Linked DNA regions of Homo sapiens: region 2 is linked to region 1. The links come from fine-mapping of genetic effects on plasma protein levels. Region 1 holds a variant in brackets. A gene starts in the other region. All regions are shown on their forward strands.

Evidence for each region. PIP is the posterior inclusion probability: the model's chance that the variant is causal. Protein levels are from antibody-based Olink assays in UK Biobank. Linkage for the fine-mapping came from a reference panel and not from the study's own genotypes, which makes the PIPs less certain.
Region 2: it holds the start of FGFR4, and the variant in region 1 is fine-mapped to the plasma level of the FGFR4 protein (UK Biobank, PIP 0.99).

Annotation. Positions count from the first base shown.
Region 1 is chr4:39,423,775-39,432,101 of GRCh38, forward strand. The region is part of intron 1 of KLB (klotho beta); the gene reads left to right. Among named protein-coding and RNA genes, the nearest start is that of MIR5591, 16 kb to the left of the region's middle. The variant C/T (reference allele first, on the strand shown) is at 4,480.
Region 2 is chr5:177,082,173-177,090,499 of GRCh38, forward strand. FGFR4 (fibroblast growth factor receptor 4) reads left to right here and starts at 4,743. Exons shown (of 18, transcript NM_213647.3): 1 at 4,743-4,905; 2 at 7,378-7,521; 3 at 8,218-8,327. The coding sequence starts at 7,431. RefSeq lists silencers at 4,354-4,403, 4,654-5,113, a promoter at 4,624-4,843 and an enhancer at 4,809-5,259.

The sequences.
Region 1 (8,327 bases):
AAGCTAATAGACCTGGTGTGGAGCCACACTGCACGAGCCTGAGACTTTTACAATAGTGGGGAAGGATCTTTTTTTTAAAATAAAAAAAATTTTAAAGGGAGACAAAAATCAGTACAAAAGTAAATATCTGGCCAGGTACAGTAGCTCAGGCACTTTGGGAGGCCAAGGCAGGAGGATTGCTTGAGTTTGAGACCAGCCTGGGCAACATAGTGAGACCCTGTCTCTGCAAAAATAAATAAATGAGCATTTATTTAGAATGAGAAAAACATCACAATAAATTATGATAGTTATTTTTTGTTTTTGTTTTTGTTTTTGAGACAGGTCTCATTCTGTCACCCAAGCTGGAGTGCAGTGGCACAATCACGGCTCATTGCAGCCTCAACCTCCGTGGGCTCAGGTGATCCTCCCACCTCAGCCTCCTGAGTAGCTGGGATTACAGGTGCACACCACCATACCCAGCTAATTTTTGTATTTTTTGTAGAGACGAGGTTTTGCCATGTTGGCCAGGCCGGTCTCGAACTCCTGGGCTCAAGTGATCCACCAGCCTTGGCTTCCCAAAGTGCTGGGATTACAGACATGAGCTACCACGCCTAGCACAATAAATTACTATAGCCTTAGAGTCCTTTTTTTCTAAAGTCTCTTTAGGGAATTTGCAAGAACTGCTCACCTAGAAATGCTTCCAATTGCAACTAGGCTCCCTGACCCACCCAGGGCATTTCTAGGGACGTAGGTAAGCAAGGCGACCTGAAGCTAAAGCTTCATTAGGCTCACAGTAAATCTGGCTTTGCTGCAGGCTCTACACGTGATGGCCCTTGTTTTTATTATTATAATAATTTGTAATCTCCATGGTGGTTTCTTTTTCTTTTTCTTTTTTTGAGATGGAGCTTCGCACTGTTGCCCAGGCTGGAGTGCAGTGGCGCTATCTCGGCTCACTGCAACCTTTGCATCCCGGGTTCAAGCGATTCTGTTTCAGCCTCCCTGGTAGCTGGGACTACAGGCATGTGCCACCACGCCTGGCTAATTTTTGTATTTTTAATAGAGATGGGGTTTCACCATGTTGGCCAGGCTGTTCTCGAATTCCTGACCTCAAGTGATCCACCCGCCTCGGCCTCCCAAAGTGCTGGGATTACAGGTGAGAGCTACTGTGCCAGGCCTCCATGGTGGTTTATATGTTGACTATCTGTATTCCCAAATCCTGAGGAAAGGCTTCAAGTCACCAACCCAGACCATTTTAGCTTCAGTTATACCATGAGATATAGTCCTTTTGCATGAAAAAATTACTATCAGGATCACTAACAAAAAGCCTTAAATATCATTACACCCTCTACAAAGATGGCATGCAAATGCTCTCCTCCGGCAAAGAGAACTTCACTAAAGCACTAATTTACTAATGCTGATTTCTTCCAATTTCTAATAGAGGGAAACTAGATGCTTCATTTAATCAAATTATGAACTTTATTCTAGACTTTTTTCCTTTTGTGTTGCCAGGTATAGATTCTGGCTCAGCCACTAGTCTAATTTAGTAATATTATCATTGAAATCAGAATTCTTTAACAGGACATTTGTTTTAAAGGAACAAATATGCTAGAGTTTAGTTTTTACATTCCTTCAGGAAAATTCTGAGACAATACAAACTGAGAATAATCAATAATTTGTTAGAATAATTTTTTTTTAAGACAAGGCCTTGCTCTGTCACCCGGGCTGGAGTGCAGTGGTGTGAACACAGCTCAAACACAGCTCACTACAGCCTTGACCTGCTGGACTCAAGTGATCCTCCCACCTCAGCCTCTTGAGTAGCTGGGACTACAGGCACATGCCACCATGCCCAGCTAATTTTTGTATTTTTTGTAGAGATAGAGTTTTGCCATGTTGCCCAGGCTGGTCTTAAAACTCCTGGGCTCAAGCAATCCATCCTCCTTGGCCTCCCAAAGTGCCAGGATTATAGGCATGAGCCACCACATCTGGCCAGAAAATTTGAAAATATAATGATTGAAAAAGAATAGGGAGAAATTCATTAAAATGTAATACTGAGTTATTTCAACTATAGAAAACATGAATTTGGGCCAGGCGCAGTGGCTCATGCCTGTAATGTCAGCACTTTGGGAGGCTGAGGCGGGCGGATTACTTGAGGTCAGGAGCTTGAGACCAGCCTGGCCAACATGGTGAAACCCCGTCTCTACTAAAAACACAAAAACTAGGCCGGGCGCTTGGCTCACACCTGTAATCCCAGCACTTTGGGAGGCCGAGGCGGGCGGATCACTATGTCAGGAGATTGAGACCATCCTGGCTAACATGGTGAAACACCATCTCTAATAAAAATACAGAAAATCAGCCAGGCGTGGTGTCGGGCACCTGTAGTCCCAGCTACTCAGGAGGCTGAGGCAGGAGAATGGCGTGAACCTGGGAGGTGGATGTTGCAGTGAGCCGAGATTGTGACACTGGTCTCCAGCCTAGGCGACAGAGCGAGACTCCATCTCAAAAAAAAAAAAAATTAGCCAGGTGTGGTGGTGCATGCTTATAGTCCCAGCTACTCAGGAGGCTGAGGCAGAAGAATGGCTTGAACCAGGGAGAAGAAGGTTGCAATGAACTGAGATCGCGCCACTACACTCCAGCTGGGTGACAGAGCAAGACTCCTATCTAAAAAAAAAAAAAAAAAAAAAAAAAGGGCCATGAAATTTGGACCATTAAAAATAGGATGGTGAATATTTTCTTTATGAAAGGCTGTAACTTTTGTTAATATTTAAATTCTTTCCTAAGAAAAGCAAAGGTAAAATAATGATTGCAAAAGAGTTTCAAGATTGCCAAAAACTTTTTAAAAAAATAGTCACATAATATAATTAAAGAAATAATTGTCACATAATTTTATAATTTTTTAGCAATGAACAGTAAAGGTCACATACCTTAAGCATCCAATAATTTTTTTTTTTTTAAGAGACGGGGTCTTGCTCTGTTGCCTGGGCTGGAGTGCAGTGGCATGATCATAGCTCATTGCAGCCTTGACCTCCTGTGCTCAAGCAATCCTTCCATCTAATCCTCCTGAGTAGCTGGGACTACAGGCATGCCACCATGCCTGGCTCATTTTCTTAATTTTTAGTAGAGAAAGAGAGTCTCACTATATTGCCCAGTCTGGTCTTGAACTCCTGGCCTCAAGTGATCCTCCCACCTCAGCCTCCCAAAGTGCTGAGAGTACAGATGTGAGCCACAGCATCCAATAAATATTTGTAGACTGCAGCATGGATGAATGAATGAATGTTAAACAATCTGGAAGAGCAGCATTTGGTAATTAACATAAAAGTTGATAGTAGGCTGGCACAGAGACAGAGACTTAGGCTGGCGGATTGCTTGAGGCCAGGAGTTCGATACCAGCCTGAGCAACATAGTGAGAGGTTGTCTTTACAAAACAAACAAATTAAAAAATCAGCTTGAGGCCGGACGCGGTGGTTCATGCCTGTAATCCCAGCACTTTGGGAGGCCAAGGCAGGCAGATTGCTTGAGGTCAGGAGTTCAAGACCAGCCTGGCCAACAGGGTGAAACCCTGTCTCTACTAAAAATACAAAAATTAGCTGGGCGTGGTGGCAGGTACCTGTAGTCCCAGCTACTCAGGAGGCTGAGGCAGAAGAATCACTTTAACCCAGGAGGCAGAGGCTGCAGTGAGCCAAGACCGAGCCACTGCACTCCAGCCTGGGTGACAGAGGGAGACTCTGTCTCAAAAAAAAAAAAAAAAAAATCAACTTGATACCAAAATAGAGAAGGGCTAAGCAGATGAAAAGATGAATCAAATTGAAATTAATCCCAAAAGGACAACGAGTAAAACTCAGGAAGCTGCAAACAATAAATGAGGGCAAACATGTTCAGCCACGAGCCTTGGCAAGTAAAGGCTTGGGAGCTATTTGCAGAACACTCTTCACGTCCACACAGTCTCCATTACGATTTTCTAGACCAAGTTAAATTATTTTCAGCTTGCTCTTTCAAAGTACTTCAAATTTACGTTTGTGTCATTTTCACAGGGTCTTCACAGATATTATTGCCTCATTTGACGTTCACGAAAATTCTCTAGGGTGTTTATTTTTAGCTCAGTAGAATGAAGGGAAAAACAGGTCTTTGACAGTGAAATGATCTGTCCAAGATCGTAAAGCTGATGAGTCAGCAGAGCTAATACAAGAGCCCAGGTCTCCTGCTTTCAAGACCAATGTTATTTCCCGTATAGTACCAGGTAGATGAGTAGCACCTTTATATCATTCTCAAATGCCATTTATCCCCTAATAGAGCTGTCAATGTTTTATATCCCATGGTCACAGAACACTCACACCAGTGGACAAAATGTATGGAAAGCGATTTGGGAATATTTAAAACAATTTTAGAAATAGGTAGTCCAGGCCGGGTGGCTCACGCCTGTAACCCCAGCATTTTGAGAGGCCAAGGCAGGCGGATCACCTGAGGTCAGGAGTTCAAGACCAGCTTGGCCAACATGGTGAAACC[C/T]CGTCTCTACTAAAAATACAAAAAATTAGCTGGGTGTGGTGATGGGTGCCTGTAATCCCAGTTACTCAGGAGGCTGAGGCAGAAGAATCGCTTCAACCCAGGAGGTGGAGGTTGCAGTGAGCTGAGATCACACCATTGCACTCCAGCCTAGGCAACAAGAGTGAAACTACGTCTCAAAAAAAAAAAAAAGAATGAAAGAAAAGAAATAGGTAGTCCATTCCTGGCATTAATGAAAGGCAATGATTCAAATAAATTAAAGGTTATATGCCCAAAGTTAGCTATTGAAACATTTATGACAGGAAAAGAGAAAGAACAAAAGAACGAAGAAAAATAAATTTTTATCAAAAGACAGAGATAGCTAAGTAAATCATTATTATACTAAGATATTCTGAAAACCAAAAACAGCGTGGAAGATGTTTAAAGTGATTTTATTTCTTAAATTTTTATTTATTTATTAGTTTAATTATTTCAAGATGGAGTTTTGCTCTTGTTGCCCAGGCTGAAGCGCAGTGGCGTGATCTCGGCTCACTGCAACCTCTGCCTCCCAGGGTTCAAGCCATTCTCCTGCCTCAGCCTCCCGAGTAGCTGGGACTACAGGTGCCCGCCACCATGACCGGCTAATTTTTGTATTTTTAGTAGAGACAGGGTCCCACCATGTTGGCCAGGCTGGTCTCAAACTCCTGATCTCAGGTGATCCCACCCACCTCCACCTCCCAAAGTGCTGGGATTACAGGCATGAGCCATGGCACCCGGTCTTAAAGTGATTTTAGCTGGGAAATATGTTTGGAAAGCCTGGGTGGGAACACAGAAATATAAACCTATTTTGTTATGCTTGTGGAGTTTTTAAATAAACTTTCTTTAACCATTGTTATTTAATAGTCTATTAAATAGCTTAAACAACAGACACTTTTATAGTACACATGAACATATTTCAGCCAAAATGTGACCAAACTCATGCACAGATTTGGAAATGGAACTTTTGACAAATGACTGAGGGTTCCTTGAATACACTGGTGTGATGTGTTTGGCTTGCTCATCTGTCTTCAACCCATCTTTCCAACAGTGTCCTGTCATGTCTTCCTCTGGCTCCTAATCCCTTCTTCATCTATTTCTAAAGTTGTGCCTACTATCTTATTTGTTTCCTATCATCCACAGAATTTATCTGAGTCTGGACTTCCAGGGGCATCAAAAAATGCTGCCACATTAAACTGGAGGAGAGAACAGAATGAGATATTAGGTCCTGGTTGTCTCTCAATGACATTAGGGCCTGATAGCTGGCTCCAAAAGAAAAAGAAGCTGACTTTCCCTTTAAGCTACTGAATCTAAAGAACAAAGGTTGAAGCTCCCTTAAATCAATCATTACAGAGGTAGATGGCTTTGTACAAATTAGAGGGTGACCTTGGAAAAGTGTAGAATGGCTGTTGTGCAAGGTTGCAGGGCCCAGGTTGCACTCCCCTACTAACCTCATTTTAATTTTCCCAACAGATCTCCTTTATGAGTGCCCAACCAAAGAACACACATAGATGGATATGGCAAACTCACGATCTTGGAGCAAAATTTTTTACCTTGTTACTTGGCAAATAGGATCAAGTTATAACCAAAAGTACTGCACAGAGGACCTCCCCCACATTCTCTACATGAGAATGAAGAGGCTGTCTTCAGCCCAGAGCAAAGATAACCCTAGATACCTTGATAGCCTAGGCAAATAGCAGCAAAGGTGAAAGAGACACTGTGGAACGTGAAGGTCACCTTGACAACACATCCATATGTATATCCAGAAAACCTGCATGGAAAGCTACTGCAAAGATATGTCTTCTGAGCTCTACTGTTTCTCATTCAAAGGCTGATGTAACCAAGATTTTTATCACGACTTAGGTCATCTTTCATATAATCACTGAAATTTAGTGTCTGCAAAAGCAAGACATTAAATTTGCAAAGCAACAAGTTTAAGGCTCACAATCCAGGCTACACGGGCTCAGTGCTTTCCAGTTTGCATAGAGAGGTGCACAATAGGCCTGAAGGGAGGTGCTGATCACTGGGTCTTCCATGAATGATAGCTCTAAGGCTACCAAGGGATTAAGTGACTGGTTAGAAAAAAACAAAGAATTCCCTCCTTTGAATCCTAGTAATTTATGACTGCTTTTGTTTCTAATTAGAAAAAAAAAAAAGCGGTTCTCAAGAATTTCTGTCGTGATTCTAGCCCCAGAAAAACCCGGAAAGAATAGCTGAAACCATTTAAGGTAGTGTCTGTCCCAGGCCCCTCTGATTCTTCCAGAAGTTGCAATCTCAGGTTGGAGACAAGGAAAGAGGCTACATTCTGAATACTTCTCTGAGAGGAAATTTTTTTTTTTTTTTTTTTTTTTTTGAGACAGAGTCTTGCTCTGTCACCCAGGCTGGAGTACAGCGACTCAATCTAGGCTCGCTGCAACCTCCGCCTCCTGGGTTCAAGTGATTCTCCTGGCTCAGGCTCCTGAGTAGCTGGGACTACAGGCGCATGCCACCAAGTCCAGCTAATTTTTATATTTTTTTTTAGTAGAGAAGAGGTTTCACCATGTTGGCCAAGCTGGTCTCAAATCAAACTCCTGACCTCAAGTGATCTGCCCACCTCAGCCTCCCAAAGAGCTGAGATTACAGGCATGAGCCACTGCTCCCGGTTGGAAAGTTTTTTTTTTTTTTCCCCTGAGTCAGGGTGTCACTCTGTCCCCCAGGCTGGAGTGCAGAGGTGCCATCTCAGCTCACTGCAACCTCCGCCTCCCTGGCTCAAATGATCTTCCAACCTCAGCTTCCTGAGTAGCTGGGACTACAGGCACGTATCACCATGCCTGGCTAATTTTTGTATTTTTTTTTTTTTTTTTTTGTAGATACGGGGTTTCGTCATGTTGACCAGGCTGATCTCGAATTCCTGAGCTCAAGCAATCTTCCCACCTTGGCCTCCCAAAGTGTTGGGATTACAGATGTGAGCCACCCACCCAACCACCAACCAAGAGGAAAGCATTCCTTTTTTTTTGAAACGGAGTTTCACTCTTGTTGCCTAGGCTGGAGTGCAATGTCACGATCTCAGCTCACTGCATCACTGCAACCTCCGCCTCCTGGGTTCAAGCGATTCTCCTGCCTCGGCCTTCCGAGTAGCTGGGATTATAGGCATGCGCCACCACGACCGGCTAATTTTGTATTTTTAGTAGAGATGGGGTTTCTCCATGTTGATCAGGCTGGTCTGGAACTCCCGACCTCAGGTGATCCGCCCGCCTCGGCCTCCCAAAGTGCTGGGATTACAGGCATGAGCCACCATGCCCGGCCCGAGGAAAGCATTCTTAAGGATCCTTGGGAATACCTGGGTGCTAAATGGTACCAGAATCTTCCAATGAAAATTGAGTAAGGACAAGTGGACAGAGGTATACCTCAAGGAATTTATTTCTCCAGAAAATCTTCCAGGAATTTATTTAAATTGTTTTTTCTTGCATAAAGCAGGATGGCACGTTTCAGAATCCTCACCCCTTACCTCAATGCCTACTTTCCCCATCTAACAGGGTTTATGGAATATTTTCAGGGTCCACAGGATCGATCTGGTTTGAATCCATTGTTCATATCTGCTTGTCTTTGACCTACGTAAAAGGCAGTTTCAGATAGTTTATTCTGATATAAAATATCTCCAGTGAGCAAAAGAAAAGCTAAGGAACAAAACTGAAAGCAGGCTCTGTGTGCTAAAGATAATGAGTCTGTGCATTTGTTTTAGAAACACACAAATAGTGGGGGCCGGGTGCAGTGGCTCACGCCTGTAATCCCAGCACTTTGGGAGGCCGAGGTGTGTGGATCACCTGAGGTCAGGAGTTCGAGACCAGCCTGGCCAA
Region 2 (8,327 bases), not on the chromosome of region 1:
CTGGCCCAGCCCAGCATTCCAGAGGCACAGAGTCTGCAAACCCCTGCCTGGGCCTGGTGTCTCCTCAGGACTGCTGGCTAAAAGGTCAAGGAGTGCAGTGCTCAGTCCCAGCCCCCACACCTCCCTCCCCAACACACTCACCTTCAGGTGAATCTGCACCTTCCCGGGCCACAGTTAAGGATGGAGACAGAAAGCATCTGATGCAGTAGCATCAATGATCCCACTCTGGAGAGTTATCCCGAGCTCTCCATCTTTGCCCCAGAAGACAGGGGTTCGAGTTCTGCAATTCACTTGCTAGATGACCTCAAATAAGTAATTCCATCTCCCTGAGCTTGTTTCTTCACCTACAAATCAGAGCTAAGGATTCCTATGCCATTTGGCTTGGTGGAAGAATTAAAGGATATAACCCATGTACAACACCCAGCATGATGCCTGGCATGTAACGGGAGCTGAAGAGTCACGAGCTCAGGAACAGGAACACGTTCATTTCCCCCAACACTCCTAGGAAGAAAGAAGCTGGAGCAGCCGGGAGCCGTTGCTCACGCCTGTAATGCCAGCACTTTGGGAGGCCGAGACGGGTGGATCACCTGAGGTCAGGAGATCGAGACCAGCCTGGCCAACATGGTGAAACCCCGTCTCTACAAAAATACAAAAATTAGCTGGGTGTGGTGGCAGGCGCCTGTAGTCCCGGCTACTAGGAAGGCTGAGGCAGGAGAGGCAGGAGAATTGCTTGAGCCTGGGAGGCGGAGGTTGCAGTGAGCCAAGATCACGCCACTGCACTCCAGCCTGGGCAATAGAGCGAGGCTCCATCTCCACAAAAAAAAAAAAAAAAAAAGGAAGAAGAGGAAGCTGGAGCATGACGGCTTTCTGGGTGGGGAAACTGAGGCAGAGGCAGGTTAACAGCAGGATCTTAGGGTGACAGGCTCTTGCCTCTGCTAAGCGAGAGAGAGAGAGAGAGAGAGTGTGTGTGTGTGTGTGTGTGTGTGTCTGAATGTATTTTTTTTTTTTTTTGAGACAGGGTCTTGCTCTGTTTCCCAGGCTAGAGTGCAGTGCGTGATCTTGGTTCAATGCAACATCTGCCTCCCAGGTTCAAGTGATTCTCCTGCCTCAGCCACCCCAGTAGCTGGGATTACAAGCGTGTGCCACCATGCCTGGCCAATTTTTGTATTTTTAGTAGAGATGGGGTTTTACCATGTTGGCCAGGGTGGTCTCGAACTCCTGACCTCAAGTGATCCGCCCACCTCAGACTCCCAAAGTGCTGGGATTACAGGAGTGAGCCACTGTGCCCAGTCGTGTCTGAATGTCTTTGAGAAAGAGACTGCAAATGTGACTGGTGAAAGATTGCGTGTCAGCAAGAGAGTGAGACAGTGTGAAAGGCTTAGGTGCTCTCCCTGACTGGCTCAGCTTATCTCCCAGGCTGTAACTGATTACTTATCTGTCTGTCCCCACTACAATGTCAGCAGCCCCTTGAAGGGTAGAAGTAGGGTCCAGGCCAGGTGAGGTGGCTCACATCTGTAATCCCAGCATTTGAGGAGGCTGACATGGGCAGATAACTTGAGGTCAGGAGTTTGAGACTAGCCTGGTCAATATGGTGAAACCTTGTCTCTACTAAAAATATAAAAATTAGCCAGGTGTAGTAGTGCACATTTGTAATCCCAGCTACTCAGGAGCCTGAGGCAGGAGAATCACTTGAACCCAGGAGGCAGAGCTTGCAGTGAACTAAGATCACACCACTGCACTCCAGCCTGGACAACAGAGCAAGACACTGTCTCCCAAAGAAAAGAAAAGAAAAAGAGTCCAATTCGGGGCTTTATCCCCAGGATTTAAAACAGTGGATGCCACATAATGAACCTTCAATAAATAATCATTCAGATGAATGAGTGAATGAGTGAATGACTTTGTGAGGGAGCATCAGCCTCTGTGGAGGGTCAGTGTGAAAGGTTATGAGTGCGGGGAGAGGAGGCAGACAAGGGATATGGGGAACATATCCTAGGGACATCAGAGGGTTGCAAATCTGAGGGATTTGCGCATCTCAGGAGACAAGGAGGTTGCAAGACCTGAGCTATGAAAACTTTTAGTTTGTCTTTGGCTCTGGTAAACTCAGGAAATGCCCGGGAAGGTGAATGAAAGCCATGTGGGGTCCAGCTCCAGCTGGCGGCTCACCCTGTCTCCCCCCACAACCACATTCACAAGGGGAGCCAGCAGAGGGCCAGAGGCAGGGAGCTGAACCCCTCCAGCAGTCCGGGAGGTCTGGCAAGGTACCCTCTGGGCAGGCAGCTCCCAGGGCCAGGAGCCTCATCTGTCCTGGGAGCTCCAGCAAGGCAGGACTCTAGAGAAGGGAACCAGGACAAATTGTTTTTAAAAGATAACCAATTAAAAAAAAATTTATAATATACATATATATGTGTGGGTGTGTCTGTGTGTATGTATATACACACAGACACACAGACACACACAGACACACACACACACACACACACACACATATATATATATATATATATTTTTTTTTTTTTTTGGAGACAAAGTCTCACTCTGTCACCCAGTCTGGAGTGCAATGGCACGATCTCGGCTCACTGCAACCTCCACCTCCCGGGTTCAAGCAATTCTCTGCCTCAGCCTCCCTAGTAGCTGAGATTACAGGCACATGCCACCATGCCTGGCTAATTTTTTTGTATTTTTAGTAGAGCTGGGGTTTCACCATCTTGCCAGGTTGGTCTTGAACTCCTGACCTCGTGATCCACCCACCTAAGCCTCCCAAAGTGCTGAGATTACAGGCGTGAGCCACCGTGCCCAGCCTAATATATATTTTTAATAGAGACGAGATCTCACTATGTTGCCCAGGCTGGCCTCGAACTCCTGAGTTCAAGCGATCCTCCCGATTCAGCCTCCCACAGTGCTGGGATTATAGGCATGAGCCACCATGCCTGGCCTCAATTATTTTCTGATTTATCTTTGGGAGGAGACCATTCTTTCGCTTAAGAAGAAAAAGAAAAAAACAATTTTAAGTCTCTTTAATGGGCCTTACAGTTATGCAAAGATATGCCACTATCCCTTTGGGAGTGAGGGTGGAAAGAACTAGACTTGCCTGCGTAACAATGAGAAAGGAAGTTGCTTCTTAAGACAGGGTCTACACTAGCTAGAGGGGACAACCAGGACCTGAGCCTCAGACAGGGTCTCGCTCCATAGCCTGTTGCCCAGGCTACAGTGCAGTGGAGCGATCACGGCTCACTGCTGCCTCGACTTCCTGGGCTCAAGCAATCCTCTGGCCTCAGCCTCCCAAGTAGCTGGGACCACAGGTGCACCCAGCCCATTTCCCTTCCTCTCAAGGTGCCTTAAGAGAAGGAGAAGGCTTGAGATTCAGGTGAGGGATGGGCAGAGATCAGAGGCTGCCTGGCCTCCTGGTTTGGCCACAGTCTAGATGCTCAGGAGAGAAGTGCTTACAGGTGAGGCAAACATGAGCCAGGTGGGCACGGAGCTATCTGGGAGCACCTACTGTATGCCAGACACTTGAACTCTAATGGTGAGGTCTGAGGACACAGTTCCTCTACTGAAAAATAGAGACAGGGCAACTATGTTGCCAGGGCTGGCCTCACACTCCTGAATTCAAGCTGTCCTCCTACCTCAGTCTCCTAGTAACTAGAACTACAGGCACCCGTCATTGTGCCCGGCCATTCCACAGCTATTTACATAATTAACTGTTCAGTTACAATTCTGGCAAGCGTGCTGAAGAAATAACAGGTCCTAAATAATTACAGCTAGTATTACAAAGCAAGCGCTGCATGCCAGGCTTACACATACTGCTAACATGTCTACTTTTTGCAACAACCTCTTGTGGGTGAGACTATCATTTGCCTGTTTTACTGAAAGGACAGTGAAGACTGAGGCCTTGTGTGATGGTGCTGAGAGCTGGGCCTATGACGTCCAGCCCTGTAGTCTGTGCTCTGAACCACTTCACCCTGTTTCTTTCTCCATCCTCACAGTAGAGACGTCATCTAAGAGGAGCTTGCAAGTCCAGAGGGCTTCCTGAAGGAAGTGAGCTGAGAATAATATGAAATTAACCAGACCAAGGGCCATTCCAGGAAGAGAGAATGGTACGTGAAACTGCCCAGGAGTAGCAGGGTGGGAGCCAGGAGGCGTGGGTCATGGCAATCTATGTATAAAGAGCTATGGGAATCTATAGGAAAATTTAAGGGAGTGGCTGACACAGTCAGATTTGTGTTGTAAGTATCACTCCGCAGGTTGCGCAGGGAACAAATGAGGGAGCAGAAGGAAGGGGTTCTCCTATCCGCTGCACGGCACTGCGCAGAAGACAGGGGAGCCAGGCATTCCCTGAAGGGTGAAAAGCAAGGAGTAGAGCTGGGTAGTAGACTAGAATTTAGGAGCCTGGCCTGGGGCCTGGGTGGGGCGAAAGAGGCGGAGCCTGAATGGGGTGTGTATAGGGGGGTTGCGTGTAGGGGTGTGTGTATAGGCTGGGGCGGGGTCCCGGGAGTGGGCTGACTGGGTCGGGGGCGGGGCTCTCCAGGTGGGCGGGGATCTTGGCCACCCCTGGCCACACCTCTCTCCGGCTCGAGCTGGTCTAGGCGGGGCGGGCCCGAGGGGGTGTGGCAGGAGGTGGGCGGGCCCGGGTGGGGGGGGGGGGGGCGTGGAAGGAGGGGCGGGCCCGAGCAGGAGGGGGCGGGCCCGAGGGGCGGGGTGGGACAGGAGGTGGGCCGCTCGCGGCCACGCCGCCGTCGCGGGTACATTCCTCGCTCCCGGCCGAGGAGCGCTCGGGCTGTCTGCGGACCCTGCCGCGTGCAGGGGTCGCGGCCGGCTGGAGCTGGGAGTGAGGCGGCGGAGGAGCCAGGTGAGGAGGAGCCAGGTGAGCAGGACCCTGTGCTGGGCGCGGAGTCACGCAGGCTCGAGGTGAGCCGGAACCCTTGTGGGCCCGGGCTGCGCTCCCAGCCGCCAGGGGGCGAGAGGCGGCGGGGCTACGGGGACTGCCCCTCCCGGCGCAGGGGACCTGGGCGTCCGCCGGGCGGCAGGGGGTGGAGGGGGCGGTAAATCAGTAACCCGCAGTGCACACAGGGCCTTTTGTCCCGCTCCGTCCAAAGAGCACCCCGGCCGCGGAGCTGGTTACTCATTGCCCACCGAGGCGGGGGCAGGCTGGCCCTGTGCAGCTACCCTCGGGACCCATTGATTCGCACCTCCCCCCAGGCTGGCCCGGCAAGGGTGGGGGAGGACAAGCGCGCTTGTCCCTGCGGCTGTCTTCGCGCCGGCGGCAGAGATGAGGGACCTGAGGCCCCGAAAAGTTCAGTCACTTAGTGCCCGGGGGCCTCCAGCGCGAGTGCGGGAGGCTGAAGGAGAACCCAGGACTGTCTGATGCCTAAGGCAGGCCCTCCATTCCCACGTGGGGGGTGGTCGGTCAGCGGTCAGCAGCCATGGGTGACTCGACTAAGGACTCTGATATCAGGGCAGCCTGGGGTAGGAATAAACTCCCCGGGCCTCCCCACCCACTCCCAGCCCAAGCTGTGTACCCAAAGAGCTGCCCTCCCTGCCAAGCCGAGCTTGGTAGGGAGTTTTACCAAGGAGGATCCGACTGGATTCGAGAGTTGAGGTGGGCCAGAGACAGCAGTATCTGAGTCAGGTAGAGAAGAGCAATGAGGGGCACAGAGGGATGGGCAAGAGAGCACATGTGCCCAGTTTTGAAAGCCAATGGCTTCAGCGCTCCTGAAGGGGCAGACGGTGTGACCAAAGAGATAGGCAGCGGCAGAGAGGGAGCCCTAGGATGTTGAGCTGGATCCTGCTGGGCACAGGTAGCCATTAAGGGCTTGCAAGCTGGGGGGCATGACATGGCAGACTTGCAGGTTTTTTTGTTTGTTTTTTTATTTTATTTTATTTTTTTATTTTGTTTTTTTTGAGACGGAGTCTCACTCTGTCGCCCAGGCTGGAGTGCAGTGGCGCGATCTCGGCTCACTGCAAGCTCCGCCTCCCGGGTTCGCGCCATTCTCCTGCCTCAGCCTCCCGAGTAGCTGGGACTACAGGCGCCCGCCACCGCGCCCGGCTAATTTTTTGTATTTTTAGTAGAGACGGGGTTTCACCGTGTTAGCCAGGATGTTCTCGATCTCCTGACCTCGTGATCCGCCCACCTCGGCCTCCCAAAGTGCTGGGATTACAGGTGTGAACCATCGCGCCCAGCCGACTTGTAGTTTTTTAAAACTCTGCTGGAAGATGAAGGTTGAAGAGCCGAGGGAGAGGATGTTTCCAGAGGCCCATGCAAGAGATGGCCATGACCTGCCTTGAGAAGGGGCAGGGGAAGCCAGATGGACTGGAAGTGGAGTGGCAGTGACCAAGGAGGAGGAGGTGTGATAGGCTTCCCACGCAGGGTAGATCCAGAGACACCAGTGCCACCCATAGGCCCCTAGGACTGCAGTGGTCACCGATTCCTTTGTCCCAGCTGAGACTCAGTTCTGAGTGTTCTATTTTGGGGAACAGAGGCGTCCTTGGTAGCATTTGGAAGAGGATAGCCAGCTGGGGTGTGTGTACATCACAGCCTGACAGTAACAGCATCCGAACCAGAGGTGACTGGCTAAGGGCAGACCCAGGGCAACAGGTTAACCGTTCTAGGGCCGGGCACAGGGAGGAGAACATTCCAACACTCTGCGTGCCGACGCACGTTCTCTCTTTTATCCTCAAAACAGTCCTATGAGGATAGTAAGCCAGAGAGAGACAGAGACAAGGAATTACAAGTTGGTGAGAGTCAGGATTTGAACTTGGCTCTGGCAGATGGAAAATTAGGGTCTGTATTCTTTACAAAACCGTGTGTGCCTCAGATGGAGTTGGTGCATAACAAGCAGAGGTATCCAGGGTCGCGGTCCTGCTTGCCACGGAAGGGGCCGCCTTGTCAGTTGTGACCACCCAGCCCTGGAAATGTCAGTAATGCTGTAAGGAGTGGGGATCGGATCAGATGCCATCCAGATGCTGAAGTTTGACCTTGTGTCATTTTTCACTTTCTTTTTTGGCTCTTCTGCAATCAATTCATTTATTTAGCAAAAAAGAAATTATGTGTGCCGAGAGCATGCAGAAGATATGTCTCCGTTCTCTGCTTCCCTCCAAAAAAGAATCCCAAAACTGCTTTCTGTGAACGTGTGCCAGGGTCCCAGCAGGACTCAGGGAGAGCAGGAAGCCCAGCCCAGACCCCTTGCACAACCTACCGTGGGGAGGCCTTAGGCTCTGGCTACTACAGAGCTGGTTCCAGTCTGCACTGCCACAGCCTGGCCAGGGACTTGGACACATCTGCTGGCCACTTCCTGTCTCAGTTTCCTTATCTGCAAAATAAGGGAAAAGCCCCCACAAAGGTGCACGTGTAGCAGGAGCTCTTTTCCCTCCCTATTTTAGGAAGGCAGTTGGTGGGAAGTCCAGCTTGGGTCCCTGAGAGCTGTGAGAAGGAGATGCGGCTGCTGCTGGCCCTGTTGGGGGTCCTGCTGAGTGTGCCTGGGCCTCCAGTCTTGTCCCTGGAGGCCTCTGAGGAAGTGGAGCTTGGTATGGCTTCTGAGGTGGGAGAGGGTGGCAGGGGTGGGAAGAGTGGGCACCAGGAGGGGGCTGCTGGGCTGAGCAAAGCTGGAAAGGATCCTTGCCCAGGCCCTGAGAAGGTGGCGGCAGGGCAGGGCTCAACCACTGAGACTCAGTCAGTGCCTGGCTTCCAGCAAGCATTCATCTATCACTGTGTCTGCGAGAGAGGACTGGCCTTGCAGGGCGCAGGGCCCTAAGCTGGGCTGCAGAGCTGGTGGTGAGCTCCTTACCTGGGTGTGTGTGCGTGTGTGTGTGTGTTCTGTGCACTGGGTGTGTGACCTAGGAGGTCCAGGCAGCATGTGTGGTATAAGCATTATGAGGGTGATATGCCCCGGTGCAGCATGACCCTGTATGTGGCACCAACAGCATGTGCCTTGTGTGTGTGTGTGTCCGTATGTGTGTGTGTGTATGCGTGTGTGTGTGTGTGTGTGTCTTGGCCACTGTCGTGTGCACTAAATGCTGTGTGTGTGACATGCCCCAAGAGTGTGGCATTTGCCCTGGGTGTGGCATCCGCAGCATGTGGCTGTGTGGGTGTCAAGGAGTGGTGGCTCCTTCAGCATGCGTTGCAAAGTGCTTGTGCCCTGCATGTGCGGTGTGTTCTTTGTACACAGGAGGCTGCCTCAGATGGGGCTGCGGGGTCTGCTGACCTCTGCCCTCTGCCCACAGAGCCCTGCCTGGCTCCCAGCCTGGAGCAGCAAGAGCAGGAGCTGACAGTAGCCCTTGGGCAGCCTGTGCGTCTGTGCTGTGGGCGGGCTGAGCGTGGTGGCCACTGGTAC